Regions from separate parts of the Homo sapiens genome. Here regions 2, 3 and 4 are each linked to region 1. The links come from fine-mapping of genetic effects on gene expression. A gene starts in region 1. Each other region holds a variant in brackets. All regions are shown on one strand. Distances are from middle to middle. Region 1 holds the start of RIPOR1 (RHO family interacting cell polarization regulator 1). Region 2 overlaps LOC124903702 (a long non-coding RNA gene). Region 3 holds the start of ENKD1 (enkurin domain containing 1). Region 4 overlaps CTCF (CCCTC-binding factor).

Region 1 (8,099 bases):
GGGTTTCGGACTTGAACTGCATTACTTCTGAAATGGAACTAGCAGTGCCGTGTGTGAGGACTGGGGGTTCATTGCGGCTCTCACCACCCTCTGCTGTCTGTCCCAGGGATTTTTCTCAGGCCTGAGTCCACCCCTCTGAGAATGTGATCTCCCAGTGGTTAGAAGTGCTCATAATTCCTTTCTACACACACCACAGCTACCAGCTGAGTCCCAGGCAGAGGACAGGGCTCAGGAAATGATGCCTGATTCAAACAGGGCCGAGCTGACCACGACCCAGGGAGCCAAGTTGGAGCTCAGAGTCTGCCCTTCCCAACGATGTGACAGTTTCTATGGGAAGTTCTTGCCTTCCCTGAGCTTCAGGTGTCTCCTCTTTGAAGTGGGTTTCAAGCTGTGTCCTCCCCTGTGCTTAGCTCACCAATTGTTAGGGAGAGGCTTTGAAAGCCACCAGGACCCTGTGACCCTCGGAGGGATGCTGCCCTTCCCTCGAGGCCCCTTGGATGTGGGGGAAGAGCCAGGTGAACTCCCAGGTGTTCCATTTAATCACTGCAGCGCCATCTGTGCCTGGTCTGGTGGTCACAGGCCTGGCCATGGACAAGGACAATAGGCAGTAATGGGTGCTCAGAGGACACAGGTTCCCTGGAGGAAGGGACATCTGAGCTGTTTTCCAAGTGGATGAGGGGGAGAAGCATCCTAGGCAGAAGGGAGGCTGGGAAAAAAGGCAGAGGCCAGAGGGTGGAGGCTGCATCCAGGGAGCTGCAGGCTGGGAGTGTAGTGGAAGCCAGATCACAGGGGCCGCAGAATAAGTGCAAGATAAGGAGGTGAGGTCATCTGAGGCCAGATCTCCTGGGCCTTGGAGGCCCTACCACATAGTATGGACTATCTTCTGGAGTGGGTGGGCATGGTAGGGGGAGGGAATTAATTCAAAAGATGTTAAGGAGAAAGAAGCAAGAGGACTGGGCAGCTAAAGGAAGGTGAGGGCAGGAGAGGGGGATGCCAAGGGCTCATGCATTTACACGTTCAGTTACTTGCTCATTCAACAAATATTTCTTGAACTCCCACTATGAGCCAGGCACCTTGATGATAAGGACTTCTGTGGTTCCTACCCGCACACTACTTAGAGACAACACAGTCAGGCAGGGTCAGGCCCATGAGCACACATGGTGTGCACACTGCTGCCTGGCCATGGTGAGCAGTATGAAAGGAGTCAATAGGAGGCTGGAACAGAGGGTGTCTGCAGAGAAAGTACTCAGAAGATGCCTGGCTGAGAGGTGACTTTAGGGGTGGGCAGAGGCCAATTGGTGCCAGCTTTGAGAACTCCAGAAAACCCCAGTCTCTAGCTCAGGTGGATGCCTGGGTAGACAGTGGTGCTTTGTAGGGATGGGGACAATGCTGAGGACTGGTGAGTCAACCAGAAAGCAGCCAGGGGCTCTGAAACAGGAGAGGGCTCTGGGCACAGAGGGAAGTTTGGGATGGTCAGCAGTGAATGGATGGGAGCCCTGAGACTGGATGATATTTTAGGGTAGGGTGAATAAAGAGAAGAACTCAGCCCCTGGAAGTCATGCCCAGGTTTAAGGACTTCAGAGAAAAGGGCACTGACCGGCCCAGTGGCTCATGCCTGTAATCCCAGCACTTTGAGAGGCCAAGGTGGGTGGATCGCTTGAGGCCAGGAGGTGGAGGCCAGCCTGGCCAACATGGTGAAACCCCATCTCTACCAAAAATATAAAAATTAGCCGGGACATCTCTACCAAAAATATAGAAATTAGAAGGCGGAGGTTGCAGTGAGCCGAGATCACGCCACTATACTCCAGCCTGGGCAACAGAGGGAGACTCCGTCCCCCAAAAAAAAACAAAAAAGAAAGAAAGAAAAGGGCACTACAAAGGAAGCCCAAGAGGAGGGGCTGGAGAGTGGAGAACTGTGAGGCAGAGGTGGCTCAAGCCTGTAATCCCAGTACTTTGGGAGGCCAAGGTGGGAGGATCGCTTGAGCCCAGTTAGAGACCAGTCTGAGCAACATGAAGAAAGCCCATCTCTAAAAAACCGACCAAACAGGCTGGGCGCGGTGGCTCATGCCTGTAATCCCAGCACTTTGGGAGGCCAAGGCGGGCAGATCACGAGGTCAGGAGATCGAGACCATCCTGGCTAACATGGTGAAACCCCATCTCTACCAAAAATACAAAAAATTAGCCGGGCGTGGTGTGGGCGCCTGTAGTCCCAGCTACTCGGGAGGCTGAGGCAGGAGAATGGCATGAACCTGGGAGGTGGAGCTTGCACTGCATTCCAGCCTGGGCGACAGTGACACTCTGTCTCAAAAAAAAAAAAAAAAAACCCGACCAAACAAAACCAAGCAAACAAGCAAAACACACAAAAAAACAGCCCTCAGGACTGGTGGGGGCGGGGTACAGATATTCAGGGACCTCTTACTGTCCCTGAAACCATTCCTGGGTAGGTCTGACATACATGAGGGCTGCGGGAGTGCAAGGCCTGGAGAAGCCTCAGGGGTGTCCAGGTTGGAAGGGCCAGGGGTGTCTGATTGATGGGAGGAGCGGGGGAGTGGAACTGGCCCTTTGACCCCAACATGGGGTCGACTCTCAGCCCCACCTTTACCGACTGTGTGGAGGGCCAGCATTCTAGCCCCGGCTTTGGAAAGGACTGGGTTGCCCAACACATGGCCCTGTACCCGGACCCTGCCAGCGTCCCCACCCCAAGACTGCCCGAAAACCAGTACCCAATGAGTGGGGAATGCATGACCCGGCTATGAGCCTGGACTTACCAGCCAGACAGTGGCAGAAAGGGCGGCCTGCCTCTACAGCGACGCTGAGGCTGGCTGAAATGGCAGGGCTGAAGGGCAGCGTCTGGACCCAGAAGGTGCCAGGCGGCTTCTGGACTCCCCAAGGCCTTCACAACAGCCCTGGATCCTTTCCACCAACCAGCCTAAGCCAGCAGTAGCAGCTCCAGGACCTGTTTCAGGTGGTCACGGACAGGGGGCCCGCAAGGTCTCCAGAGCCCGAGGGATCTGGGGAGGGGACAAGCAGGCGGGGCTCCCTGGCGCTCACCGTTTTAGGGTCTGCGTGAGAAAGCCTCCCTCACATCCCCCAGGGTCTGCCCTCCCTGCAAGCTGGTGGGCTGCGTGGGCCACCGGCCTGCCCCGTTATCCGAGAGGGCGGAGCGAGCCGTGGGCGCCTCTAGGGGTGCGGGAGCCGCGGGAGCGCAGGGGGTGGGGCCCGGCGGGCCAGGGGAGGGGCGGCGGGGCGGCGGGCGGAGGGAGGGGCCGGCGCCTGCGGCGGCGACAGCGGCAGCTGCGGCGCGACCAGGCCGGGCACCTCCGAGCGCAAGGACAGCGCGAGGTCCGCGCAGCCCAGCGCAGCCATGTGAGTGTCCCGCGCCGTTTCCGGGGCTGCAGGCCGGGCGGGGAGCAGGCGCGGAGGTTCTGGTGCCCCCCCGCCGGCGCCGCCCGGTGGGTCCGGGATCTGCGGCTCTGTCCCGCCTCACCCCATCTCCCGGACCCCGGCCGCGCCTTGTCTTTCCTCCCCTCCCCCCGGGCGTGGAGAACGCAGCTTCTCCCACAAAAGCCGCCGCCTCCGGGCCTGCAGAGCCTGGCGCTGCTGCCTTCCTCCCACGGCAAGGCCCTGGCGGCCGGTGCCCCGGGGCGCTGGGATGGGCCAGGCCAGAGAGCGGGCTCAAGGCGCCAGCCTGGGCCCTGGCACGCGCGCTCCCTGGGAGCCCTTGCTGCCTTCGCCGCAGGGGAGGCTGGGCTGGAAATGGGGAGGGGGCGACGAAGGGTGCGGGCCGGCCTAGGAGCTGAGCTAATCCTCCTAGCTCTAGGGGCCGGCCTAAGCGGCTTTGTGGCCGGCCCCGAGGTGACCGAGCCTGGGCTGGAGCCGGGCTCTCCGCCCAAACCTGGCGTAGCCGAAGCCGGAGAGGATCGTCCTTGTCGGGGAACGGAGCTTTTCCCTGGAAATGGAGGTTGGCGCAAGGTTCCTGCAACAGCCGGGCCTGGGCTCTCTGCAGAACTGGTTTGGGCAAGGGGCTGCTCACCAGGGCTAGAGGTCGGATTCAGTCCAGATTCAGCACCCTTTGTCCTCCTCTCCAGGGTGAGCCCTGAGTCCGGCCTCCCCTACAGACCCTCCCCAGCCAGTTCTAACGTGTGTCCAGGCTGGCCGCCCCAGCACCTACTGTGCGCAGCCTCGTGTAACAATACTTGTGCCCTGGCTGCAGTCTGCGGGGCCGCGCCCTGGGCCTGCCGCATTCGGCCAACGCACAGCATCTGAGGAGGGTTATGACCATCTGGCAGATGCAGAAACAGGCCCAGAGAGGTTAGTAGTATTCTCAAGGTCACACAGCTGGTTTGGGAGAAGCGAGGATTAGATCTGAGTCCTTGCCCCTGCGACACCCACCTCCGTGGTATTGGAGGGAGGAGAGGAATGATAATTGGGGGCTGAGGTACAAAATACTCCAGCGGGACAAGGAGGACTGGCATAGCTCCTTCTTCCACCGCCCTCTCCGGCTTGGGTCCTGTGACTGCGGCGGGAGAGAGGAGCAAGGTGAGCCGCCCCAGGGGTCTGGGTTTGGGTGCGGGTGAGGGGAGGACTCAGGACTCTGGGCTGGGTCCCGCTTGAGAGAAGCGGGCGGGGAGGGCGCGGGTGAGTCACGGCGGCCCCTCTGCGTCGCCGCTCGGACTCAGCCCTGGCCAGGCCCGGCCCGGGGGAGGCCGCCTGGCTCCCAGCGCGCGGCCAGGGAATGTAACCAGCTGACCAGGGAGGGGGCCGGCAGGAAGTGAGGCCACCCGACAGCCTCCGCCCGGTTCCGGGGTGGGGGGTCCGGGGCTGTGCCGCTCCCCCTCCCTCCTATACGCTTGGGCAGCTGCGAGATGACGTCAGCCGCCGGGTTTGGGGGCAGTTGCCATGGAGACAAGGACAGGCTCAGAAGGGACCCCCTTCTCCCTTGCAGCCGCCCCTTGCCCAGGTTATTTTTAGCCTCTGTTTACCTCGGTCGGGGCGGCCCCGGGGTGGGGCGGGGCTAGACCCGGGGACTCCCAGAGAGGCAGCTGGCCTGGCACAGTGCTGAGATGGGCAGCCCAGGTGGTGGGATATTCCGCCGCACCCGGGTGTGCCAGTCTTGGTGTGTAGGAAGTATAGCGGGGCTGCAAGATCTGGGGCCATGCGGACAGGTCAGGGCTCCTCCACTCACGGCCATCCTGACCTGGCTGTGCTGCAAGCCCCATAACCTTTGGAACCTTGGATCTGGGTTATTTCCCATCCTGGGAACAGACTATAGGGCTGACATGAGCCCAGAGAGTCCCCTGGTTCTTATCAGCCAGTCCCCCACCAGTTGAGGTGGCCCTTCTGCCTTAGCTCAAGGGGTTCAGCTCTTTCCCTACCTGCTCTCACCCAGCAAGGGCAATCTTGCCCGCCCATCTCCCGAAGCGGTCACTCAGATGGACATTATGATGGTCATTTGTACCAACAGTTAGACATCCTAGTTCCTATGGGACTCGGGGGATGGTGGCAGCAGAGGGCCAACCAGAGAGAGAAAAGTGATGGAACAGTCAGCGGTTTCCAAGTCCAGAATCCCAGGGGATCCCCACCCTGCACCATCCCAGGGAGCAGAGCCCCACTTGCTGATGGTATACGATACCATCAGCCAGTGGGAAGGGAGAGGGAGGATTGCATGTCGGGTAGGGGAGTTGGGGTGGACATAGACTTAAAATCCTCCCCACCAACAAACAGCTCAGGACCTGCTGTTCCTGTGTCTAGGCAGCCCAGCTTCCCCCACTGTTCCCCCCCTTCATCTCCCAGGTGCTACAGGACCCCCAGAGCGCTGTGGTGAGCCAAGCAGATATGCCCCAGGTCTCACAAGGTTCAGTCTGGTGGGAAGACAGGCCCTAAAGGAGAACTGACAACTGGGTTATGTGGTCTCGGGGTTCAGAGGGAGGAAGTCAAAAAGGGGGAACCAACCCAGGGCCTGCTTCCTGGAGGAAGAAGTCATAGGGTAGACTTGAGGAAGGAGAGGGACTTGGGGCTGAGTAGTGGGAAGAAGGAATAGGAGCGATGGGGGCTGCCGGTCAGATTCTGAAGAACCTTGCAGGTATTGAGAGAGGGTCTCAGTTGCTGGAACAGAGAAAGCAGGGGACTGGGAGGAGAGGAGTGGTTGAAAGAATGTGAGGGACAGGACAAATCCTGAAGGGCCTACGTGGGTCATGTTAGAGAGTCTGGGCTTTCTCCCTGGGACAAGAGTGGCTGTGGCTATTTCACATCAGTCTGAATAGAGTGATATTAAAGATTTAGAGTCCTGGGGTCAGACAGCCTGGGTTTGAATCATGGTCTTGACACTTACCACCTGTGTGACTGTTTTGTTTTGTTTTTTGAGACAGAGTCTCGCTCTGTCGCCCAGGCTGGAGTGTAGTGGTGAGATCTTGGCTCACTGCAAGCTCCACCTCCCGGGCTCATGCCATTCTCCCACCTCAGCCTACTGAGTAGCTGGGACTACAGGCGCCAGCCACCACGCCCAGCTAATTTTTTTTTTTTTTGTATATTTAGTAGATATGGGGTTTCACCGTGTTAGCCAGGATGGTCTTGATCTCCTGACCTCATGATCCGCCCTCCTCAGCCTCCCAAAGTGCTGGGATTACAGGCGTGAGCCACCGCACCCGGCCGTGTGACTGTTAAAAATAATAGCAGTTAGTATTTGTTGTGTGTTCACAGTTAGATGTTAGCTAGGCATGGTGGTGCATGCCTGTGGTTCCAGCTACTTAAGAGGCTAAGGCAGTAAGATTGCTTGAGCCCAGGAGTTCAAGGCTGCAGTGAGCTATGAACGCACCACTGCACTGAAACTGATCGCTTGAGCCCAGGAGTTCAAGGCTGCAGTGAGCTATGAACACACCACTGCACTGAGACCTGGGTGACAGCGTGAGACCTCGTCTTAAAAAAAAAAAAATTAGGTATAGTGAGTCCACCTCAACGTCCCTACCCCACATACAATTCTCCCTTCCCCAAACACTTCCTATAGAGGGACATCCTCATGAGAGGAGATCTCATTTCATCCTCCCAGCAGCCTTGGGAAATAGCTGTTGTTATTATTATTATTGTCCTCTTTTTACAGATGGGTGTCTGAAGCCCAAAAGGCTGAATAAGTGTCTTGCCCAAGGTCACACAGCCTCAGGTTTCTCAGGTGCGAAGTGGAGCTAATAGGACTTACCCCATAAGGCTGTTGCCAGGATTAAATGAGATGATGTTTGCTAAGCTCAATGCCTGGCATATAGAATGCTCTCAATAAAGGACAGTTTTTGGCACTGTCAAGTGGCTACAATTTTAAGGTCAGTGTTGTTACTGAATAATGAATGGATGATTGCAGGTTAGAGTGGAGACAGGAGGTCCCTCAGGAAGGTTCTAGCTCATCAGAAGCCCAGCTGTAGGGCTCGAGGGGAGAGTTGGTGATGGCTTGGACCTGAATTCTGGCTATAGGGGTAGAGGTGAGGGGGCAGATTGCAGAGAGATTTAAGAGCCAGACCTGGCAGGAGGGGGTGACCTGGCAGGAGGGGGTGACTGGTCATAGGGGCTAACTGAGACATCCAGGACGACTTCTAGTTTCTGTCTTGAACAACGGGGTACATAGATGGTGGAGTGTCATGGAGAAGTTGAGACTAGGGAGAGTCAGGTGGAAAGTGGTGAATTTGGTTTGGGAACCTCAAACCCAGCATGCACTATGACAGCGCACGCTGCATCTGGGGAGGCAGCAAGCAGGCAGTTGGATACAGAGGCCTGGTGCTCAGAAGAGTGGCTTGGGTGGAGGAGAGATAAGGAAGCTGGCAACATTTAGATGGCATTGAGCTGCGGGATCTGTGCACAGCCCAAGGGCGGGGAGGATAAGGCCCATTCGGGGATGGGAGGAAAGAAGGGGCCTCTGTGGGAAAGTAAGATATGCAGCCAGAGAGGTAGATAGAAAACCAGCGTATTGTCTCTTGAAATTCAGGGGAAGGAAGGGCTTAAAGAAGAGGAGGGGAACCACGAAGTCCAAAGCTTTGCTGAGATCAAGCAGGATAAGGATAAAACATGGGCACTGGGTTCAGCAACAGGGAGGTCACTGGTGACCTTGTCCAGTGGTG
Region 2 (8,099 bases), 100 kb before region 1:
CCTGGGAGCTGCCAGAGGTGACTCCACAGGGACAAAGCTGGATCAGCCCACCCTGGGCCTGAACCAACAGATACGTCCATAATTAGAGCCAGTGTGATCCCAGGGTTCCGGGCACTCTTCACCTGTCCCAGGGCAGGTTAGTGGTTCAATCTTCATGGTGCCAGTTATAAGATGGTGACCTTGGGTAATTTTTTTTTTTGAGGCGGCATCTTGCTTTGTCACCCAGGCTGGAGTGCAGTTGCACAATCTCGGCTCACTGCAACCTCCACCTCCCAGGTTCAAGCAATTCTCCTGCCTCAGCCTCCTGAGTAGCTGAGATTACAGGTGCCCACCACCATGCCTGGCTAATTTTTGTTTTTGTTTGTTTGCTTGTTTGTTTTTGTTTTGCTTTTTTTTTTTTTTTTTTTCCTAGTAGAGACAGGGTTTCACCATGTTGGCCAAGCTGGTCTCCAACTCCTGGCCTCAAGCGACCCGCCCGCCTCAGCCTCCAAAAGTGCTGGGGATTACAGACGTGAGCCACTGCACCCAGCCATAAATTCTTCAACTTTAATAATCTCAATTTGCTTGTATTTGAAATGGGGGTAACAATAGCTACTGCCTAGGGCTGTGATGAGGCCTGAAAATGTGGCCATGCATATAGAGCACCCAAAGAGTGCTCGATGGGTAGTAATCACTGGTGCCTCCCATCCAGACCGTCCTTGTCTTTCTACCAGGAAATGATGCTGTCCGCATCATCAACGAATGGAAGTAAATTTAATTATTAAATTAGACTGGGTGGGAGATGATCAGCCACAGCTCTCGCTCTCTGGGCCCACTTCGTCTGGGTCACAGTACCCTCTCCAATGGGCCCTGGATGACTCAGCCCATCCACTTGGCGTGTCTTCATGGCCACCAGCATCTCTTGCCCTGGCTTTCTGACTGGCTCTTGATTTCCACGGGGGCCCTCCCTGTCCCCGTCCCCACCCCTATCAGTCCATTCTCCTTACAGCCTGTGGCTGTCTTAGAACAAAAACAAAATTTAAAAAATCCACGCCAAGCTGATTCTTTTACTTCCTGCTTACAACCCTCAACAACACTCCCCACTCCTTAGGGAGAGGTATTTCCATATACCATGAAATTGGAATAGAAACCTCCTCCTCACTGTGGCCACCGCAGTCTCCAAGACCTTGCGTGCCCCCTGGCTCAGGCTGACCACAGCTCTGTCTATCCCACGGCCTTTGCATTTGAAGCTCACACTACCTGGAAACTTACTTCCTCTGGGAAAGCCCTCTGTGGTCCCCAGAATAGAGACCATCATTCCCATAGCACCGTGGGACTCTGCTTTCTCGTTCCTTCTCTCTGGGTCTCCTTGATTGTGTAATGATCTGATAAGGGCCTGTCCCTCCAGTCAGACAGAAGAGGAGGGAATTATTATTCCTCCCACAGGGGAGGAATAATGTTTGTATTGTTTACTATTGCTTCCCTAGCACAGAGCCCAGAACATACTAAGCACTCAAGAAATGTGTGTTGAGGCTGCTGTAATCCCAGCACTTACTAAGCCCAGAACATACTAAGCACTCAAGAAATGTGTGTTGAGGCCGCTGTAATCCCAGCACTTTCGGAGGCCAAGGTGGGAGGATTGTTTGAGCCCAGGAGTTCAAGACCAGCCTGGGCAACATAGCAAGACCCTGTGTTTACAAAAAATTTAAAAATTAGCGGTGCATGATGACGCATGCCTGTAGTCCAAGCTACTCAGGAGGCTGAGAAGGGGAGGATCCCTGGAGCCCAGGAGTTCGAGGCTGCAGTGACCTATGAGTGACTGCACCACTGTAGCCTGGGCAACAAAGCAAGACTCTGTCTCTAAAAATAATAATCATAAAGAAAGAAATGTGTGTCAAACACGTGAAGAATAAAAAAGGATAGCGCTACTTATAGGAATTCTTCTGTGAAGCCTTGTGTAAATAACCAAATTATTTTTGTGTAAAAATGGACTTTCCTATATTATCCCACCTCTTCAACATAGTAAATCTATTTTTTCCATGTTCCTTGTTAAGCTTTTTGTAAAATTTGCTGCATTCAAGGCACTTTCCTCCCATTAATTTTCTTCCCTGTTAAGTGGTTTTTACGACCACTTCATGCTTTAAGCAAGAAGTGCCATTTAGTATTTAAAATATTCTCTCAGCTTTCTTGGTGAGATCTTTGGCAACCTTCCTACTGTTGATTGTAACTGGTGCGACTTGGAACACGATGTCACTCTTCCAGAACTCTTCTCAGACCTAGATAAAACTTACTCTGTGTCACCAGTTGGGGACAAGGTGTTTGGAAACAGTACCTTATGCAACAGAACTGCTGGAGGGCCGCCCCTCAGAGGCAAATGAAATAAAAATCATGGTGTGTGGAAAATGTGCCCGCAGAGTCCCAGGAACCAAAGATTTTAAAGCTTCTCTGCCAGTAATTCAGTTTTTATTTTATGTTTCTTGGAAAACTGAAGTCTTGTGTTTACCACGTGTCACCTAAGATGCAGAAAGGGGGAAAAAAGTGATCCTGGTTGGTGAAGATTTCCATTTCAATGGCAGCCTGGTCCAAGCTGTTCTCTTGCAACTGACTCCCGCCTCTCCCCCACCAGCCCCCTCCCGCCCCTGCACAGGCTCCCTGGGGAGGGGTATTTCCTTTCAGTGTGAAATCTGTCTTTTTGCTCGCTCATTTCTATGGGGAATGGCACATCCATGCAAAGTTGTTGGCTGCTCTTATTTTATTTCAAAAATGTGCTGGCCTCAGACACCTGAAGTTTTCCTCGAATACTTTAAAGCAAATTATGTGCAGGAACCTCTCAGACCTGCTCTCACCGGAATTTCCTTTGAGTGTTCATATCTCAGAGCCTTATGTAACCTGACACAATTATCTGAAAAAGCTTGGAATCCAAAAGAAAGGTGTTCTGAGCTAGGAATGAAGGTCAGAGCTGGGAAAGAAGTGCTCTCCCTTGCCTGGGGACTGGGTCACACTTCACTACGACAATGCCCAATTCACGTTCCAAAGAAAAAATACTAAACCTCTGGCAGGGTGACCAGTGGGTACACTCGCCTCATTTCTCTGAACAAGGAATCGCTTAATGAGGGCTCCCGGGGCATTACAAAGCCTTGGACCTGGCTGGCGGTTAAAAATATTTCGATAACCACCTCCAGCTTCTGGCCTTCCCAGGATGGAAGCAGGAGTGGCTTGGGCCCCTTTAGGAGAATAACCCCTCCGCTGACTGCAAAAATCAACCCAGCTGGACAGTTGGGGTCTCGTGCCGGAGGTCAGTGCTGCAAATGGGGTATAGGTGGGGGTCTGGAATTCACATTTTTATACCAAGTGGTTGGTCTAGGTGATTTGACTCAAGCCTGGCCCAAGACTCCCCCGCCCCAGCCCACTCCCAACACAAGGCGGAAGGAGAGCGAGGACATTAACTGTAAGTACAGACCTAAAACTGGGGGCAACCAGGAGATGACCCCGCATTCTGGAAAGCCCTCAGGCCAAGAAGCTCTTTTTCTTCTTGAGAAATATCAACCCTGCTCGATATTTGCATACCAGCGGTGAGGGACCTCCACGGAGCAGAGGCACCACTCATAGGTGGTTGACTTTTCAAGGAATTCGCTGGAGAAAATTGTACGCAAGGCTGTGAACAAAACCCCCCTCCATCTGGTTTCAGTTTATTTAAAAAAACAACACACACAGTCCTCCCCACCAGCAATCAGAAGACAGCCACAGCTTCCCCAGGGGGCGTATTAGCCACCAGGGGTGGGGCTGAATTATGTATATGCAAATAAATTAAAACAGCCAGCCAACAGCAACTAATTTTTGTATCTTTTGCAGTTGTTGTGCCAAGAAAAGGCCTGAATC[A/G]GGGTGATGGAAGCTGTAAGGAGACAAGTTTGGAATGAGTTTTAACAATCAAGTTGCCTCAATTCCGTCGTTGGGAGACTTGTTTTTAATCGAGCAGCAAATAGCAAAAGGTCGGTAGCCTTATCCTTATGTATAGGATAAGGATAATGATAGTACCTACTTCATAGTGATGACGTGAGGATAGTAAATAAAATAAAGACCAAGCAAGCTAAGCACAAGGACTGGCATGCCACAAACACACAACCACACTGGAGGATACAAGACGGATCCTAGAAGGATTTCATCCAGAGTCAGTCAAGCTCTCCCTCCAAATGCTCTCAGCTGAGGCTTGCTTTCCGCCTGGGACTGGTCCAGAAAGCCCTGCAGAACATACTCTCTCTGTTTCCCAAACTCAAGGACCCTAATCCCCAAACATCTGCCTTTAATCCTGGAGACAGTAAAAGTTCGGAGGAGGGTGCCAGACACAGGCTGAAAACACAAGTGATGCTCCTGGCTTTCTGTGTCTTACTGCCTCCCTCTCTGGTAACTGGAGGGGAGGTTTCCTTCAGTTCCGTAACTGAAGGGCCTGGTTTCCAGGTGCCCAGCCCAGATGGGATAGCTCTGAAAAATGGTGGAGGCAGGGGCGAGTTCAGTTCATGCCTAGGGTAATCAGAGGGGAGTCGGCAACCTCCAGGGCTCCCACGCTACAGGAGCAACATGCTGGAGCCCACAGGCTTCCACCTGCCTTGGGGCTCAGCCTTTGCATGTTCAGGGGTGCCTCAAGCTCAGTTTGTTTGAACAGACCTCTGCTCCGTCCCTCATCTGGATGCAGGAACAAGACTCCCAGCCTCAAGAATCACTTGAAGCCAGCAGTTCAAGACCAGCCTGGGCAACATAGTGAGACCCCTGTCTCTACAAAAAATTTAAAAAACAATAGCCAGGTGTGGTGGTGAGTGCCTGTAGTCCCAGCTACTACGGAGGCCTGAGATGGCAGGATCGCCTGAGCCCAGGAGTTCAAGGCTGCAGTGAGCCGTGATTGTGCCACTGTACTCCAGCCTGGGTGACAGAGCAAGACTCCATCTCTAACTAAAAGTAATAATAATAATAATAAAGTAATAATCATAATAAAATTTAAGAGTGATAATAATAATTTAGTCAGCCTCCACTCTTCCCCAGATCCATTTCCTGTCCACCTGGGATGGGGGTCTCATTTGCTCAAAACCATTCCAAGCTCTCCTTTGCCCTCAGGATGAAGTCTAAGATGCCACAGGTGACCAACACAGCCCCGTATTAACACAGTTCTCAAGAGCCCAGACTTTGGGTTCAGGTACACCTGAGTTTGAATCTTGGGGCTGGTCCAAGACTCCAACGCAAGTGGAACTTGAGAGCTTGAGCAATTCCCTTCACCTCTGGAAGCCTCAGTTCCCTTGAATGTAAAATGGTGATAATGACAACTACTACAAAGGCTATGATGAGGTATCTGCACCCAACCCAGGGCTTGGGACACAGCAAGAGATTTGGAGGCCAGTGCATGGCATGAAGATTGAGGATGTGGTGGGGCACGATGGCTGCCAGGACCAGCTTTAGACATGCTGAGGCTGAGGGGCCTATGTGTGTCCAAGGGAAGTGTCCAGGGGCAGCTGGACATGTGGGCCTGTGGTCAAAAGGGAGAGCTTGGCCAGAAAGCAAGCAGGGAGGTCGCCAGCATGTGAGTAGAAAGATGAGCTCATGGTGTGGGGAGGGCCGAGGGTGAGGCCTCTACAGCCAGAGCTTCACCCACAAGGAAGAGAAGCTGGAGAAGGAGGCTGAGAAGGAGAGGCAGTGAGGTCGGAGGAAACCCGGCAGCCGTGGCTTCGCAGGCACCCAAGGGAGACAGGGCTTGGGGCAGGAAAGAGAGGTCAGCAGGGCCGAGGCTTTGAAGAGGCCAAATTAGCTGAAGCCAGAGATGAGTCTATGGGATTTGGGGACTAGGGGGTTACGATTGGGAGCTGGTCCCAGGCAAAGGCTGGGAGGGGAGAGTGGTGATGGTGATTATGGACAACTTTAGAGAAATGCAGCTGAAAACAGTAGGAGAAAACACAAGAGAGATGCTTTTTTTTTTTTTTTTTTTTTTTTTTTGAAACAGAGTCTTGCTCTGTCACGCAGGCTGGGGTGCGGTGAGTAGTACAATCTCGGCTCACTGCAATCTCCGCCTCCCACATTCAAGAGATTCTCCTGCCTCAGTCTCATGAGTAGCTGGGACTACAGGCATGCATCACCATACCTGGCTAATTTTTGGATTTTTAGTAGAGGCAGGGTTTCGCCATGTTGGCCAGGCTGGTCTCGAACTCCTGACCTTAGGTGATCCGCCTGCCTTGGCCTTCCAAAGTGCTGGGATTACAGGCGTGAGCCACCACGCCCAGCCACAAGAGAGATGCTTGTGGAAAGGGATACGGGCTTGAGGTTCCCAATGGGTGAGGCTAGCGCCAGTACACTTGCTGCTGGGGCCAGTAGTCAGTTGCTATATCTGTGGTGCCCAGCACAGGGCCTGGCATGCAGTAGGAACTCAATACAAGTTTGTTGTCTTTGAGGACAGGGAGCAATGGGGTCTAGGACCCTGGCCACTGGCAGGAAGAGGGACCCTCTGCCATTCTGCCAAGAGGAGGCATGGTGGGGGTGAAGGCGTGAAGCAGAGTGCAGGGCAGGGGCTCCTTGGGAATCTGCAGCCTCTTAGCTGCAGAGGGAAGAGGAGGTGACAAGTCAGTGCTGAGTGCTCTGCTCCAGGAACCCAAGTACAGTCAGAGGACAGAGCGAGAGGGCTCCTGGAGTCTGCCACTTGGTACCCCCTACTGTAGACATCTGTTCCCCTCTCCTCAACCCAGCAGCCGGTGGGTTACCTGGTCTTTAGCTCCTTCAGAGCCGTGCTCTCCCTACACGGCCAGCAGAGGGTACCAGTGAGCTGCTGGACTCCGCTGGAGGAGACCAGAGCCCGCCTGCCCACCCCTTTGTCCTCCAGAGCCTGGGGCGTGCTAAGGGTTTGGTTAACCAGGTTTCTGACCAAGGCGGGTTGGAGGCTGGGACAAAGGACTAAGGGAGGCTGTGGGCTGAGGGCTTAGGGGCCGAGTGGCTCAGGTGCTCTGCTCCTGGTCACCCTTCATTCCTCTGCCCTGCCAGGCCCTGCTTTATCTGTTGAGGCTCCTGCCCACTGCCCCTCTCCGCTTCTCTTCCCTGGAGGCCCCTGACAGCCTAGACTCCTGCTTCTAGCAGAGGCTGGTTTTCTGCCCCTAGGCAGGCACGACTTGGCAACAGGCCTCAGACAGGGCTGGGCCAGCTTCTGCCAGCAATGACTGCCCTAACCACCTTGTACTTCTAGAACGTCTCCACCTAATAAGGGATAAGGGGTCAGTGGTTGAGGAGGCCACAGGAGCTGGAGCATAGGTCCTGGGAAGGAGGAGGCTTGGACTAGGAAGTGGGATGAATGGGCAGGGGGAGTTTATATAAAAATGTGGCAGATGGTCCAGTCCCACCAAGACCCAAATCCCATAAGACTAATGGCTCTGCCTGAGGTGGCACGAGGTTCCAGAAGCTGAGCTGGAAACACCCCCTTCCTCATCCTAACCATGTTATACTCTTCAGCCAAACGCAAATCCCAACATCGCCTCCTGGCAAGTCTGTCCCCATGGTGGCCTTCACGGTTCCTTCCCAGGACAGTGTAGGACCCTGCTTCTGCCTCTTTCCTTATCTTGCCTTCCTGCCCCATCCCCCTACTCTTCAACTCCTGCTTTAGCAAGTGCTGGTTCTATCTGTGTTGCCTTGACCTTGAAGGCTCCCCAGGACCCTCATCTCAGCTTCTACTCCCTTCCTCACTCCAAGGGGAAGACTCCAATGGACTGAGGCTGGAGAAACCACAGCCAGACTCTTGGTGTGGTGGCTAAAGCTGGGGGGTCTGGCCAATCCAATCTCTACAGCTCAAATCAGGAAGTCAGGCCAGGGGTGCTGTGTCTGCCTCCAAGCCTGGGCCATACATTCACCGCAACAGGAATCAGTGACTTTGGAAAAGGAATGTTTCCCTGAGTTTCTAGAGGCAGGATGACCCAGACCGAAGGACAGAGAGTTACCAGAAACACACACAATGCACACAAATGTACTCACTTGCACACACAGGGTCATGGCATAGGGAGTGACACAACCAAATGGCCTGGACAAGCCACAGAGTCCCATGGACACAAGTGCTTACAAACACAGGCACACAAGGTCATGTACCCAAGGTCAGGCACACACAC
Region 3 (8,099 bases), 140 kb after region 1:
CAGGTCTACAAGGGTTAGTCCATGCCCAGGGTACCCAAGCGTCACCCTCTGCAGTCCCTGCCCTTGGCTTGACCTCTAAGTGGTAGGAAATAGCTACAGTGCCCCCTGTAAACAGCCCAAGTCGGGGAGCAGGTCTCTGATCTCAACATCCCCCCTCTTCTGCAGCAGAAGCTGACTCCAGCGGCCTGGCTTTTGCCTCCAACTCTCTGCAGCGGCGCAAGAAAGGGCTCTTGCTGCGGCCAGTGGCACCCCTGCGCACCCGGCCACCCTTGCTAATCAGCCTGCCCCAAGATTTCCGCCAGGTTTCCTCAGTCATAGACGTGGACCTACTGCCTGAGACCCACCGACGGGTGCGGCTGCACAAGCATGGTTCAGACCGCCCCCTGGGCTTCTACATCCGAGATGGCATGAGCGTGCGTGTGGCTCCCCAGGGCCTGGAGCGGGTTCCAGGAATCTTCATCTCCCGCCTGGTACGTGGGGGTCTGGCTGAGAGTACAGGGCTGCTGGCGGTCAGTGATGAGATCCTCGAGGTCAATGGCATTGAAGTAGCCGGGAAGACCTTGGACCAAGTGACGGACATGATGGTTGCCAACAGCCATAACCTCATTGTCACTGTCAAGCCCGCCAACCAGCGCAATAACGTGGTGCGAGGGGCATCTGGGCGTTTGACAGGTCCTCCCTCTGCAGGGCCTGGGCCTGCTGAGCCTGATAGTGACGATGACAGCAGTGACCTGGTCATTGAGAACCGCCAGCCTCCCAGTTCCAATGGGCTGTCTCAGGGGCCCCCGTGCTGGGACCTGCACCCTGGCTGCCGACATCCTGGTACCCGCAGCTCTCTGCCCTCCCTGGATGACCAGGAGCAGGCCAGTTCTGGCTGGGGGAGTCGCATTCGAGGAGATGGTAGTGGCTTCAGCCTCTGACAGTCAGGATGAAGCCCCATGCCACTCCACACTGCTGGGACATGGCAGGGACTTCACAGTGGGGGTTTTTAGCTGGCTCACAGGGCTCCCTCAGCCTGGGGAACATTAAAGGTTTTCTACAAATACAGTCATGGTCCTTGTGTGTCCCAGTTCCAGCCTCCTCCCTGGTCTCACCAGCTTGCCTTCTGCTCTGGACTAAGGCAGGAGTGACATTGGGGAGAACTTCCTGCAATCAAGCAGCAGGAGGGCCACCAGGCTTGGCATTTTTAGGGTAAGAAAAGCTCTTATGGAAACAAATCCTGTGTACAAAATGTTTAATTTTGACAAAGCAGTTAAAAGGCTAGGGTGGCCCTTCTGCAGCCACTGGTGACTGGGAAGAGTGCTCTAGGGACACTGGCCACCCCCCTGCTCCTGTCTTCAGACCTCTGCTCTGGGATTGGGTCCAACCCTGTCCTTTGCAGCCATGTGGCGATCCTCAGCATGGAGCTCCTTGCCACTGTCCCCCAAAGGGGCTCAGTCGTCCATCTTCACGAAGACTTTGGGCCGAGAAAAGATCTTGATGGCCTCCTCTACCTGCACCAGCTTCCGGTCCAGCTCAGCACGGTGGCTCTGGGCTCTCAGTGAGTCTGCCCCAGCAGGCAGCAGTACCAGCTCACGCAGCAGCTGGCTCTGGCCTACAGGGGGCCCGGGAACAGTGAGAACAGTGAGTGTTGGGCAGGGGTGCCCGGTCCCCAGTGGGGCCCCCCTCCAGCCTCCCTGCCCAGGTACTCACTCTGGAGCAGCTTGGTCAGTGTTTCCAGCCGCTGGTTCTCAGGCATGCGCGTGTGGCCTGGGGGCATGGCAGGGTCCGGCTGGCTCTGCTTGCGGGCCTCGGCCTCCCGCCGCCACAGGTCCCTGCGCTCCAACAAGCTGTGGGTACACAGGCTCAGAGTTGATGACCCGAGGGCAGAGGTTGGTTCCCACCCTCCACAGGTGTCCTTCACCCTGAGTGTCGGGCAGTGAGACCTACTAATGTGGCACATGGCCCTTCTGCGTGGCATTGTAGTGCTCCTGGGCCTGCCGCTGCTGCTCTAGCACTTGTGCCAGGACCTGCAGTGAGCAGGAATGCCTCCGGGGGGCTCTCTTGGCAGCTCGTGCATTGTGACGAATGAAGTCCACCCCCAGGCCTGGCTCCTGCAGGACACAGCAAGCGTGGGTGGGGGCAGACAGCATTATGTTGTGTCCCTGAACACCCCCCCCACACCAGGAGCCCTGCCCAACCACCATCTAGCCCCCATACATCCTCTCACCTTAGCTTCGGGACCTGGTGGGGTTGGCTGGGGACTAGATACATGGGGTGGTGGGAGGCCAGGGCCGCAGCGGGAGTGCGCCCGCAGGAAGTGGGCAGACTCTGTCCCAGAGGCAGGGCCAGGCTCCTGGAGGGCAGGGCACAGCAGAGAGAGCAGGCAGGCTGAGGTCTGGGGCTCAAGCTGCAAGACCCTGGCCATCTTGGCCCTTCTGACCTTTGCATCCATGTCCCTCGGGCCCTCTTCCCTCTTCAAGGGACACTTGTCCTCATCAGCACACAAATGTGTGAGTATGTCAGATTTTTAAGAAAACAACAAACCATCTCTCCTTCCACCTCAGTACTGGCCCAGCTACCACTCTCTTTCCTCCTTCCTAGCCAAGCTTCCTGGCTCTAGCCCTGCAAGGCTCCTAACAGCTGGCCTCCAAGTCCTCAAATCCAGGCGGTCAATTCCTTGGTCTCGTTGTCCTCAACCTGATCGTCAATAACTCCTAGGTCTCACTCCTGAGATCCAGGCCTGAATTTCCATCTGCTTCCTGGACACACTCCCACCCCCTGGGAACCCCACAGATGCTTCAGCTACAACACATTTGTGTGACCTTGCCTTTCCTCTCACTCCTGCTCCTCCTACTGAGTCCCTGAGACAGAGCCCCCCACCATACCCCTGCCCTTCCCACTGTCCTCAGAAATAAGGGCTGAAAAGTGGCTTTTGTGGCCCCTGACGTGGGTCCAGCTGACTTCTTGGCCTAACTTCACGCCCTTCTTTCCTCACAGTGAACTGTACCTAGCATCTCCACTGCTGCGTGCCCTGTGGTCTGTGAGGTTCCATCTTTTGGGAATGTTCTCTTCTGCTGTCCCTTTGACTAATTGCTACTTGCCCTCAGGATCAGCCCCACCATCACTACTTCTGAGAAGCCCCCCAGCCTCGCCCTGCAGCAGAGCCAGGGTCTCTTAGTCCTCTGTTACCTCTGTGACTTCCCTCCCACCCCAGAACTCAGATCAGGGTACAGTTGCCTGTTGGCCAACAAAATGGATAATACTTCTGGCTCCCTGAAGCAGGTACCTGGAGCTGGGCCTTGACCCGGGACTCCACCTTGTCGTACTTGGGTGAGCGCCACAGAGCTTTCAGGGGCCTGGGCTGGCCCTGCTCCCGGCTGCGCTCCTGTTCTCTGAAGCGCTTCTGAATCTCCCTGATCCGCCTCAGGTTCTCCTTCTCATGGTCCTTAGGGTCCTTCCCTGGAGAAAAGATGCCCCCAGGTTCTGCCCTACATGGGGCCCACACAGTCCAACTTCCACTAGTTCACACACAGGCCTGCCCCCTGCCTCCTACAGAAAGAGCTCCCTGACCTCTCCAACTACCTTAGACCCTACACACACTCTCCCTCATCACCGTGTTCCCTTCCTCATGTAGTAAGTATCACAGGATGATTTTCTCCATTATTATTATTATTATTATTATTTGAGACAGGGTCTCACTCTGTCACCCAGGCTGGAGTACAGTGGCATGATCATAGCTCACTGTAGCCTCAACCTCCCCGGCTACCTCAGCCTGCCGAGTAGCTGGGATTACAGACACACTCCACCATGCCAGCCTGATTTTTGTATTTTTTGTAGAGATGGGGTTTCACCATGTTGGCCAGGCTGGTCTTCAACTCCTGGACTCAAGTGATCTGCCCGCCTGGGCCTCCCAAAGTGCTGGGATTCCAGGAGTGAGCCACTGCGCCCAGGTGATTTCCTCCATTATTATAGTGAAGTACACCATTGAAGTACACCATAGATCATCTCATATATGACATTCATCTCTTGATCTTTGTATCCCACCTTGACTCAGTGATGGCTCATGCTTATCTTCAGCCCTGTGTTCTAGCATCTATATGGCCTGGCACACAGTAGGCACTCAACAAACAAATTTAATGGGTAACAAATGCATAAAGCAGAGCTAGGGCTTCGTGGGAACTACCTCATTCAGTTCACCTCCTTCGAGAAGGTAGCATATTTCTCCCCCTTTTATAGTTGGGGAAACTGAGACTCAAGAGATGCAAAGCCTGGGCCCACGTCAGGGTGGAAAGAGCAGCTGCTTTTGATCTCTTTCCACCCCGCACTGCCTCTCTG[T/C]CCCTTCTTCCATTCCTGGGACTTACTCTTGAGAGAGGCCCCAGGACCTAGGGAGATCCCCTCGAGTTGCAACAGCACGTCCCCGACGCCGCGCTGGCCGCGCTCCAGGATCTCTCCGGCACCGGGACCGATGCAGGGGCCACGGGGAGCGGTGGTGTCCAGGGCCCGGTCGGAAGTCAGCAAGTCCAGCTTCAGCGCGTTTCCCTCGAGGCGCCCTTGAGCTGTGGGGCGGAGCCGGGCGGAGTCCGGGGCTCAGAGGTGGAGCCAGGGCCGACCCCTGAGCCTCGCACCACCGCCAAGCCCCCGGACTCACCCGAGGTCGGCCGCCTGTAGTTGTCAGGACAGAGCGTCGGGTCTGGGGGGATGGGCCCCGAGATGCGGGACGGGCCCTCGCACATGCCGCCGGCGCCGCCCAGCAACGGTGCCCCGAGGCCTGCAGGGCTGTTTACCTCCCTCCCCGGGCCCCCTTCCCCAACCCCGGGCCCCCTCCCTCGCCCGGCACCCTGACCCTGGCGTGCCCGCCACTCCCGGGCCCCTGCCGGTCCCCGCCTGGGCCCCGGCCTCGCTCGCCACCTCCGCGACCTCTGCTCCCAGCCCACTTCTCGGTCCCGCTCGCGGCCTCTCCCCCGCGGCACTCGGGCAGGGGCTCACTCGAGAGGTTTTGCCGCCAGCCGCTGCCACCCGACGGGACTTGTTGTTGCCGGGCAACCGTGGCTTCCGTCCCCGGGGTCAGGGCCCACTGACCCCGGCGCAAAGCGTCCTGGGGCTTGTAGTTTCGGCCGAGGGTGGGCTCCGCGGTCGCCGGTTTCTCTTCCCAGCTCTGCCCTCGCTTGCTGGCCGGTCTCCGGGGTCAGCGCGGGGCCACCATCCAGCCCCTTGGGGCCCGCCCCAAGCAGCTGTCGAGGACGCACTCAGCCTGCGCAGCCATGGCCTCGGCAGGGGCGGAGAGGCGGCCGGGGGTCCAGGAGGCGACGGTCGTGGGGCAGGGACAGCTCACGGAGGAGCCCGGCAGCGCTCAGACCTCCGAGGTGACCGTCAGGCTGTTTAACCTTCAAACACAGGGCCGCAGCGCTCTGAGAGGTGGAACTGAGCGCCCCGACCCGCTAACTGCCAGGCTGGGCCCTCCAGGCGGGGAGGGGCACAGGCTGGTGTCCTTATTCCCGTTTCGGTGTCTAACGTTAGGTGTTCAGTGACGGATCCCTATGTCCTTTGCCCGGCCATGGTGACCGATGGCCTGTGTGTCATCTCTAGTGTCCAGTGGCGGGAGACCAGTTCCTGGTGCCTGCCCATGAGGCCCGCGGAACCCAGAGTGAAGACCAGCGCCCAGCAGGCGCAGCTTCGGAGTCGGAGCTCCAGGAGGAAGGACCCAAGCTGGGGGAGGAGCGGCCCAAGCCGCATGCCGGGGCGCTAGAGGAGAGAGGCCCCAGGCCCGTGGTCTCCATTGTGAGGCCCCGTCATGGTCCAAAGAGAAAGCCTGTCAAGTGAGGGGGCTCTCGGGGGGAAGGAGCTGCAGCCCCGGGGTTGGGGCACACACCACAGTAGGATTCCTAAATCCTGCACTCCTGCAGGGAGGATTCTCGTCCCCAGCCACTACCATCACTCTCCTCCCGTTCCTCAAGAGCCCCCGTGTAGGGAGCAGCAGGAGAGTGGGAGCTTCAGGGCTTGTAGGGGCCTGGGCTCACTGGCCTCTAAGCCTCTTGGGCCTGGGGTCTCATTGACCAGGAACGGGACAGGCGTCGAGCCCTGGGGCTGTGGGCAGGCTGGGCTATTCCCTGGGCCAGGGAATGGGAGCCAGGGCTGGAGCCTGGCTCAAGTCTCTTGTCCCTGGCTCAGGTCTCTCAGCCTCCCGGGCCTTCGTGCCCATCTTAAGGCTGAAGCTGAGCTGCCACCCAAGCTGCCGCTGCAGGAGGAGGAGCCAGAGGACAGCCAGAGTGAGCCCTCACCATCTGCCAAACAGCACAAAAAAGCCAAGAAGCGCAAGAGCCTGGGGGCTCCCGTGCTCCACGCTGTGGCCAGCATGGTGTCTGCACCCTTAGAGACATTGAGGCTGGAGCGTGAGTGGCAGTCCCTGGACTGTTCCTTCTCCCCCTGCCTGTGGGGCCCGACATGGCACAACCTGGCGCTCTAGCCTCTGCCCTGCCCTGGGTCTTTGCAGGAAAGGCCCAGCGCCTGCGGCCGCTGTACCAGTACGTCAACTATTGCAACCCTGAGCTGAACCAGGCAGGGAAGGGGGACGGGGAGGCTGAGGTGGAGGCAGAGGCAGAGCTGGCCCCGGTTCCCGAGGAGGGAGGTGTGGAGCAACTGCAGGCCTTGCTGCCCTTGGCAGGTGAGCTGGGCCCAGGCCTCGCTTTGCCCTGTCCCAGTCCACTAGTGACCCCCACCCATGCCCTGGCTCCCCTCGGAGAGGAGGCTGGAGAGGAGCCTGGGGGCTTGCCCAGCTTGGGGGTGAGTGACCACAAGGCCGAGGTGGATAAGTCAACCCAGGTGGACATCGACAAGATGCTGAGTGTCTGCACTGCTCCACTTGTCCCCCCGCTCTCTCCTCAGTACAAGTGACTGTCCCGCCCCACTGGTGGCTCCCCTCCTTCCACGCCTGAATTTGGCTTCAGGCTTCCTGTGGGCCTAGGCCCTCTGGTGGCGGGGGCAAATTTGGCACCTGCCCCCACTTGGGACTTTGGTCTTGCTGAAAATAAATATTTTTCTTTTTCAAAGACTTTGTGATTCCCCAGATAGGTTGCCTGAAATGGGTAAGAGGATGGAGGACTCAACAGTGCAGGGTTTGAGGCCTGAATGGTCATCTGCATCACCTGAGACTTTGACAATGACAGATTCCTTTGTGCCACCCCATGCCTCACTGAATCAGGGTGGACCTGGTGCTGTGTGTTTAGGTGAATCTGAGGGTCAGGCAGCTAACTGGGTGATGAAGAGGGAAGTGAGAAGGAGGAACTTGGGGCAGAGAAAAGAAAGGGTCTGTTGGGTCATGGGAAGCAGGTGTTTGGCCCTGCTCTTCTGTCTCCTGGGGAAGGGCCTGCATTTGGTCTCACCTTGAGGGGATCAAAACTTGGGATCCTCCTAGGAGGTAGCACAGAGTTCTTTTGCCTGTCACAACAGTGACAGCTTTGGGATGTTTCCTACTCATTGCCAGACCATAGCTGGACCGGACCTTGTCTGTGGAGTAGCCTCTGGTCACAGGTGACAGGGCATCAGTGATGTTTTCCTGGCAGGCAGGGGTGGACAGGGGCAGTAAGTGCATCTGGGACCCTGAGGCCAAGCCACTGGATGACAGCTGTGTCCAACCGGCAAGGATCTCTGGGAAGAGCCAGCCAGTGTTGGCCATTTTGGAAACTGCACATCCTGGGCCTCCTGTGTGTTCCTTGGACACCACAAACAGACACAGGGAATTTTAAGTTCATGGAAATTTCCCCTTCCTCCAACTGGCTTTTCCTCCTGTATCTCATCTGCACAATTGTTTAAGCTAGAATCTTGGGTGTCACCCCAGACCCCATCCTGTTCTTTGCTCCCTGATTCCTACAAGCTAAGCAGACATTGAGGCCAGTGATCCTACCCTTTCAGGCTGAGAACCTCTCGGACCCCACAGTCAGCACCGTCGCCTGGACCACTGTCATCTCCAGGTGACAGCCTCACTGGTCACCCTGCCTGTCATCCCTTGGCCCACGGATCCATCCAGTGGCCCTGTGACACACACACCTGAGCCCCTGATGGTGTCACTCCCCCTTGGGATTCCCCTCCTCTTGCCCCAGCTACCTTAGAATTCAGTGGCT
Region 4 (8,099 bases), 76 kb after region 1:
ATTTTGTTTTTGTATTTCTAGTCGAGATGGGGTTTCACCATGTTAGCCAGGATGGTCTCGATCTCCTGACCTCGGGGATGCTCTGAGATTCTGAGCAGTGTATTGAGAGGCTGATGGCTTGCTACTTTGTGTCTGATTTTTCTCTATTAAAAATAGAAGCTATTGCTTTAAGACCGAGTAGATGCTGTTGTTTTGTGGACTTTATGCCATGTGTTTTTTTTCAGTGAGACAGTACTCTGTCAGCTCAACTTCTTGGAAGCACAGTTGGTTTCTATTTGTACTCTTTTGTACCACTTCTTTTTCTACCTGGTTTATAATTCTGTGACCTCTTTTAGGTTGGACTCGGTTGTTTACAAGCAATTTTTTTTTTTTTTTTTGAGATGGAGTCTCCCTCTGTCACCCAGGCTGGAGTGCAGTGGCCCAATCTTGGCTCACTGCAGCCTCCGCCTCCAGGGTTCACGCGATTCTCCTGCCTCAGCCTCCCAAATAGCTGGGACTATAGGCACCTGCCACCACAACTGGCTAATTTTCGTATTTTTAGTAGAGATGGGGTTTCACCATGTAGGTCAGGCTGGTCGTGAACTCCTGACCTCAGGTGATCCGCCTGCCTCGGCCTCCCAAAGTGCTGGGATTACAGGCGTGAGCCACTCAGCCCAGCCTGTTTACAAGCAATTTTTAACATTTTAAGTTTTCAAATTCACACCAGAGACCAGATAGAATTTTTTTCCGTTGTCTTCAAGTTGTAGCATCAAATTATATGCTACAAAATCCTGGAGACCCCAAAGATTGTTTTTCCTCTACCAATTTTATTATTGAGGATATTTAAATAGTCTGGGATTATGTAGTGACTCTGGCAGGGTCACCACATTTACATTCACAGCATCTCAATTTTTTGTTCTTTGATACCTTTTCTGAGAATGTCACTCTGAAGTAAATTGGGCTTTTTGTATGTTCCCTAGCTCCAGACATCTGGATTATCATTCCCTTTGCAGGGATACTAACTTTTGGGGCTTTTCAGGGACTGAAAAACTTCTCTTAAAAAGTTTTTTTCTGGGGGCTGGGCACGGTGGTTCATGTCTTTAATCCCAGCACTTTGGGAGGCCGAGGCCGGCAGATTACCTGAGGTCAGGAGTTCAAGACCAGCCTGACCAACATGGAGAAACCCTGTCTCTCCTAAAAATATAAAATTAGCCAGGTGTGGTGGCGCATGCCTGTAATCCCAGCTACTCGGGAGGCTGAGGCAGGAGAATCGCTTGAACCCAGGAGTCGGAGGTTGTGTTCAGCCGAGATTGCGCCATTGCACTCCAGCCTAGGCAACAAGAGTGAAACTCCATCTCCAAAAAAAAAAAAAAAAAAAGAGAAGAAAATCTTAATGGGGAAACAGTAATAGTATAAAGTTAAATTGCAAAATCTAATTCTGTGGGTCAAGGGTGGGACCTGAAGTTCTGTGTTTTTAAGAAGCCAGTGCTGCTGGTCCTCAGACCATACTTTGAATAACAAGTACAAAGTTGTGCTGTCCGGTACGGAAGCCCCTAGCCTCATGTTGCTGTTGAGAATTTAGAGTTTCACTGGTTCAAATTAAGGTATGCTGTAAATGTAAGATATAGCTGGGCACGACGGCACATACCTGTAATCACAGCACTTTGGTAGTCTAAGATGGGACAATAACTTGAGGCTGGGAGTTCAAGACCAGCCTGGGCAACACACCTCTACAAAAAAAAAATTACAAAAAAAGAAAACATTAGGCCGGGCGCAGTGGCTCACACCTGTAATCCCAGCACTTTGGGAGGCTGAGGTGGGGGATCACGAGGTCAGGAGATCGAGACCATCCTGCCTAACATGGTGAAACCCCGTCCCTACTAAAAATACAAAAACAAAATTAGCTGGGAGTGCTGGTGGGTGCCTGTAGTCCCAGCTACTCAGGAGGCTGAGGTGGGAGAATGGCATGAACCCGGGAGGCGGAGCTTGCAGTGAGCCGAGATCAAGTCCCTGCACTCCAGCCTGGGCGACAGAGGGAGACTCCCTCTCAAAAAAAAAAGGCTGGGTGTGGTGGCTCACACCTGTAATCCTGGTACTTTGGGAGGCCAAGGCGGGCGGATCAGGAGGTCAGGAGATAAGAGACCATCCTGGCTAACACGGTGAAACCCCGTCTCTACTAAAAGTACAAAAAATTAGCCGGGCGTGGTGACAGGAGCCTGTAGTCCCAGCTACTTGGGAGGCTGAGGCAGGAGAATGGCGTTAACCCAGTAGGTGGAGCTTGCAGTGAGCTGAGATCGCGCCACTGCACTTCAGCCTGGGCAACAGTGCAAGACTCTGTCTCAAAAAAAAAAAAAAAAATTAGAGGCCAGGCACGGTGGTTTATGCCTGTAATCCTAGCAATTTGGGAGGCTGAGGCGGGCAGATGACTTGAGCCCAGGAGTTCGAGACCAGTCTGTGCAACATGGTGAAACCCCACTTTTACTAAAAATACAAAAAAATTAGCCTGGTGCCTGGTATGAACCTGTAGTCCCAGCTACTCGGGAGGCTGAGGTGGGAGAATCACCTGAGCCCAGGAAGTCAAGGCTGCAATGAGCCATGACCATTCTGCTGCACTCCAGCCTGGGCAACAGAGGAAACCCCGTCTCAAAAAAAAAAAAAAAAAGAAAAGAAAAGAAAATTAATTGAGCATGGTGGCATAAACTGTAGTCCTAGCTACTTGGCAGACTGAGGCAGGAGGATCACTGGAGCCCAGGAGTTGGAGGTTACAGTGAGCTGTGATCCTACCACTGCACTCCAGTCTGGGCAACAGAGCAAGTCTGTGTCTCAAGCATAACAATTTTTTTTGTTAGTTTTGTTTTTGTTTTGTTTGTTTGTTTTTGAGACAGAGTCTCGCTCTGTTGCCAGGCTGGAGTGCAGTGGCGCGATCTTGGCTCATTGCAAGCTCCACCTCCCAGGTTCACACCATTCTCCTGCCTCAGCCTCCCAAGTAGCTGGGACTATAGGCATCCGCCACCACGCCCGGCTAATTTTTGTATTTTTAGTAGAGACAGGATTTCGCCATGTTAGCCAGGATGGTCTGTATCTCCTGACCTCATGATCCACCTGCCTTGGCCTCCCAAAGTGTTGGGATTACAGACATGAGCCACCATACCCGGCCAACAATTTTTTAAATTGATGAAACCTTGAAATGATATTTTGGACATACCAGGTTAAGTAAAATAGATTACTAAAATTAATTTCACCAGGGTTTTTTTTTTTTTTGTTTTTTGTTTTTTTTTTTTACTTTTTAATATGAATTTTTTTTACTTAAAATTACATATAATGTGGCTTATGTTTGTGGCTTGCATTATATTTCTATTGAACAGTGCCAGCCTAGAGAATTTATATTCTAAAGATAATCTGTCTGAACAGTACTGAGTATATAAAATTAATTATAGTTAGGATTATGCTTAGTCTTTTACAATCAGAGGTATAAATGGGATTTTTTTTTTTTTTTTTTTTTTTTTTTTGAGACAGTCTCGCTCTGTCTCCCAGGCTGGAGTGCAGTGGCGCAATCTCGGCTCATGGCAAGCTTCGCCTTCCGGGTTCACGCCATTCTCCTGCCTCAGCCTCCCGAGTAGCTGGGACTACAGGCACCCGCCACCACTCCTGGCTAATTTTTTGTATTTTTTAGTAGAGATGGTGTTTCACCGTGTTAGCCAGGATGGTCTCGGTCTCCTGACCTCATGATCCACCCGCCTTCGCCTCCCAAAGTGCTGGGATTACAGGCGTGAGCCACCACGCTTGGCCTAAATGACATCTTATAATAAAAATACTAGCACTTTGCTCATTTTTAATTTATAGGTGAATTATAAAGCATTCTACAAATGTTCTTTGATCCCCACCTTCTGCGGTAACATTTTTTTATATTTGTCCCCACTGTCATGGAACAGCATAGTAAGAAGCCTTTGCATTGGATGTTGTTGTATTTTTCTCTTGGTTGTTGAGAACAAGGGACTAATGAAAGAAAGAAGGTAATGGAAGAATAAACCAAACTGGCAATCCAACAACCTCGGGAGTTTACCTTGAGCCTTGTTTTTTTCCAGGCAGATGGTGGGGTTTGCTGAATCTGTCCAAAAGTATATGTTGCTTCAAGCCCGGCTTTTGCCCTTAAAGAGCTTTCACACCCAACTGGGAAAATAGATCGTTTTGAGAAAATTTTAAGTGCTAAACTGTGTCCTTATTTTATCAGAAACACATTTGGAGCAAAGTAGTGGCCACAAGAACCTCAGAAAGCTTTGTTGTGCCAGGGATGAGCTGGTGTTGAGAGGAGTGGATCAGACGTAAAGTACAGAGTGAAGACAGGGAGATGACAGTAGGAACTGTGTCTGGATGAAAAGACAGCTTGACTGAAGGGGAGAGTGCTAGAGGGCAAGACATAAATCTGAATAGGTTATCATGGGGTCAGGTACGAAGGGGCTTTGTGAGCCAGAAGGGTGGTAAGTGCATCATGTAGTTTTTGCAAAAGTAGAGACACACTTTTTGAGGAAATTAAGTCTTCTTCTTTGTGAAATGAGTGAATCTTTACTTCTCTGCCCAGAAAGCATAAGTGGTTTTCCATTGCCAGTCATCTGAGGTATTTTGTTATTCAAGACCATCCAAACTATGGGGGGCAACCAGCACATCTTTCACCTGTCTTACTACCCTCTCCTCTGTCCTGTGCTTTAAGCCAGTTCTTTTTCTTACTCATAACTAATTCCCACATGTATTTATTGTACCCAGAAATCCAAACCTTTCCCCTACAGAATACATCCTCTGCCCTCCACTGTCAAACTCTGCCTTTAAATGTCCTGCTCACGTTTCAGGGTTCC[G/A]TTCAAATTCCACATTTATGAAGCATTTTTCTATCACACCTGGTTATGTTATCTTTCTCCAAACCTATGTAATTTCACCTTGAACCATTGTGCTACCTATTTTGTCCTTTATGTTAGACAGTAACTCCTAGAATGTAGGACCAGGCCTCCCAAAATGCTGGGATTACAGGCGTGAGCCACCACGCCCGGCCCCTATTTTGCTCTTGTTTAGGTAATGTCATTCTCTCTGTAGTAGTTCTTGTGCTGCCTCTCAGGTGGTCCTGGCTTAAGGAGTCTTCTCTGACTGCTATCATGGATATAATACAATGTTAAGGTGCCTAGACAGAGAATTGGAGAAAAGTGTGTCTAATAGAACTAACAAAAGCTTCGTTTGAGCTGTATTCTTGGCCAAAAATACAAAACACTTCAATGTTTTGTTTTGGGTTTTTTTTTTTTTTTTTTTTGAGACATAGTTTCACTCTTATCGCCCAGGCTCCAGGCTGGAGTGCAGTGGCACTCGGCTCACTGCAATCTCCGCCTCCAGGCTTCAAGCAATTCTCGAGCCTCACTCAGCCTTCCAAGTAGCTGGGATTAGAGGCACACCCCACCACACTCAGCTATATATGTTTTATTTTATTTTAATTATTATTATTTTTTTGAGACAGAGGCTCGCTCTGTTGCCCTGGCTGGAGGGAGTACAGTGGCCCAATCTCAGCTCACTGCAACCTCCACCTCCCAGGTTCAAGCAATTCTTCTGCCTCGGCCTCCTGAGTAGCTGGGATTACAGGCATGTGCCACCACACCTGGCTAATTTTTGTATTTTTAATAGAAACGGGGTTTTGCCGTGTTGGCCAGGCTTGTCTCCATCTCCTGACTTCAAGTGATCTGCCCGCCTCGGCCTCCCAAAATGCTGGGATTACAGGCCTGAGCCACCACGCCTGGCCCCTATTTTACTCTTGTTTAGGTAATGTCATTCACAAGATTTTTGTTTGTTTTTTATTTTTTGTTTTTGAGACCGAGTCTCACTCTGTCGCCCAGGCTGGAATGCAGGGGCACTTTCTCAGCTCGCTGCAACCTCCACCTCCAGGGTTCAAGTTCTTTTCGTGCCTCAGCCTCCCAAGTAGCTGGGATTACAGGTGCACACCACTACGCCTGGCTAATTTTTGTATTTTTAGTAGAGATGGGGTTTTGCCATGTTAGCCAGGCTGGTCTTGAACTCCTGGCCTCAACTGATCCACCAGCCTTGGCCTCCCAAAGTGCTGGGATTACAGGCGTGAGCTACCGTGCCCGGCCCATTCACAAGATATAAGAGCCAAAAACTATGAATTGGCTGATTTGTTTTCTGCTTTCTATTATATATTCAATTTGGTTGGCATTTATTGAGTACTTACCATCCTGGGCACAGTGCTAAAGAGTAAAAACCGTGGCTGGGCGTGGTGGCTCACGCCTGTAGTCCCAGCACTTTGGGAGGCCGAGGCGGACAGATCACGAGGTCAGAAGTTCAAGACCAGCCTGGCCAACATAGTGAAACCCCGTATCTGCTAAAAATACAGAAAATTAGCCAGGTGTGGTGGTGGGCACCTGTAATCCCAACTACTCCGGAGGCTGAAGCAGGAGAATCACTTAAACCTGGGAGGCAGAGGTTGCAGTGAGCCAAGATCACGCCATTGCACTCCAGCCTGGGCGACAGTGCGAGACTCCGACTCAAAAAAAAAAAAAAAGTAAAAACCGGTTGGGCGCAGTGGCTCACACCTGTAATCCCAGCACTTTGGGAGGCCGAGGCAGGCGGATCACGAGGTCAGGAAATCGAGACCATCCTGGCTAACATGGTGAAACCCCGTCTCTACTAAAAATACAAAAAATTAGCCGGGCATGGTGGTGGGCGCCTGTAGTCCCAGCTACTCGGGAGGCTGAGGCAGGAGAATGGCGTGAACCTGGGAGGCGGAGCTTGCAGTGAGCGGAGATCGTGCCACTGCACCCTAGCCTGGGCAACAGAGCGAGACTCCGTCTCAAAAAAAAAATTAAAAAAAAAAAAACGACTTGTTAGATGTGGTTCTTATTCTCAGGGAATTCCTGATCTCATTGTCAGGAGAGAGGTGAATGTCAAGTTGATGGTATGACATGGGCAGTTTTGTGCAGTGTCTACAAACACGGCCATTGCAGTCTGGATCTAAGTTCTGAGTTTGGCTTCAAAAAACAAGGTCAAAAACCCTTGACAGGGTGGGGAAAATGGGGAATTGCTGTTGAGTGGGTATAAAGTTTCAGTTATGCAAGATGAGTAAGTTCTAGAGATCTGCTACACAACATAGTTCCTGTATTAATCGTATAGCATTATGCACTTTGAATTATGTTGAGGATGGATCTCATGATAAATATTATCACCAAAAACAAAATACAAGGAAATTTTGGAGGTGTATTTAGTGTTTTTTTTTTTCTTTTTTGAGACGGAGTTTCGTTCTTGTTGCCCAGGCTGCACAGTACAATGGCGCAATCTTGGCTCACCGCAACCTCCACCTCCCGGGTCAAACGATTCTCCTGCCTCAGCCTCCCAAGTAGCCAGGATTACATACAGGCATGCACCATCACACCTGGCTAATTTTGTATTTTTACTTAGGACGGGGTTTCTCCATGTTGTTCAGGGTGGTCTCGTACTCCCGACCTCAGGTGATCCACACACCTCAGCCTCCCAAAGTGCTGGGATTATAGGCGTGAGCCACCACGTGCTTAATAAAGCTACCTTAATAAAGCTTTTTACAAAACATTGGCAGACCCGGGCACAGTGGCTCAGTCACATGTATAATCCCAGCACTTTGGGAGGCTTAGGTGGGAGGATTGCTTCAGCCCAGGAGTTCAAGGCCAGTCTGGAAATGTGGCAAGACCCCATAATTGCAGAAAATTAAGCTAATTCATATATGCATCATCTCACATCCTTGTCATTTTTTGTGATGAGAACACTTAAAAATCTGCTCTCAGTTATTTTCAGGTATACGTTATTATTAACTGTAATATTCATGTTGTATAATAGATCTCTTGAACTTATTCCCACTGAAATTATATGTCCTTTACCAGTGTCTTCCCCACTACATGTGTAAGATTTAAATTAGTTTTGTTAGTAATTCTTTAATATCATCAGATATCCAGAGTTGAAATTTCTAATTGTCTTGTGTCACATCTTTTTCACCATTTATTGGTTTGAATCAGGATCCAAAGAAGATTCATGCATTGTGATTGATTACTGTCTCTTTAAGACTCTTTTATCTGTATCAGAGTTTCTCAGCCTCAGTGCTCTTG

What was found. PIP is the estimated chance that this variant, and not a neighbour inherited with it, causes the effect.
Region 2: its variant is fine-mapped to the expression of RIPOR1 in whole blood (TOPMed, PIP above 0.99).
Region 3: its variant is fine-mapped to the expression of RIPOR1 in whole blood (TOPMed, PIP above 0.99).
Region 4: its variant is fine-mapped to the expression of RIPOR1 in whole blood (TOPMed, PIP above 0.99).

What each region holds. Positions count from the first base shown.
Region 1 is chr16:67,525,549-67,533,647 of GRCh38, forward strand. RIPOR1 (RHO family interacting cell polarization regulator 1) reads left to right here and starts at 3,281. Exons shown (of 22, transcript NM_024519.4): 1 at 3,281-3,366. LOC100505942 (a long non-coding RNA gene) reads right to left here and starts at 3,197. Exons shown (of 2, transcript NR_104656.1): 1 at 2,769-3,197. RefSeq lists silencers at 3,238-3,347, 3,378-3,607, 4,608-4,887.
Region 2 is chr16:67,421,548-67,429,646 of GRCh38, forward strand. LOC124903702 (a long non-coding RNA gene) reads left to right here. Exons shown (of 2, transcript XR_007065093.1): 2 at 3,832-4,984. Among named protein-coding and RNA genes, the nearest start is that of HSD11B2, 5.5 kb to the right of the region's middle. RefSeq lists enhancers at 2,678-3,272, 6,468-7,002, 7,003-7,537. The variant A/G (reference allele first, on the strand shown) is at 3,859.
Region 3 is chr16:67,661,728-67,669,826 of GRCh38, forward strand. PARD6A (par-6 family cell polarity regulator alpha) reads left to right here. Exons shown (of 3, transcript NM_001037281.2): 3 at 169-1,047. The coding sequence ends at 920. ENKD1 (enkurin domain containing 1) reads right to left here and starts at 5,023. Exons shown (of 7, transcript NM_032140.3): 1 at 4,631-5,023; 2 at 4,344-4,538; 3 at 3,269-3,441; 4 at 2,210-2,335; 5 at 1,930-2,093; 6 at 1,693-1,829; 7 at 1,218-1,594. The coding sequence starts at 4,715. The coding sequence ends at 1,434. It overlaps C16orf86 (chromosome 16 open reading frame 86), which reads left to right and starts at 5,087. Exons shown (of 4, transcript NM_001012984.3): 1 at 5,087-5,345; 2 at 5,569-5,798; 3 at 6,151-6,371; 4 at 6,473-7,028. The coding sequence starts at 5,244. The coding sequence ends at 6,873. RefSeq lists silencers at 4,595-4,864, 5,205-5,254, 5,275-5,324, 5,405-5,454. The variant T/C (reference allele first, on the strand shown) is at 4,318.
Region 4 is chr16:67,601,505-67,609,603 of GRCh38, forward strand. The region is part of intron 2 of CTCF (CCCTC-binding factor); the gene reads left to right. Among named protein-coding and RNA genes, the nearest start is that of CARMIL2, 40 kb to the right of the region's middle. The variant G/A (reference allele first, on the strand shown) is at 4,830.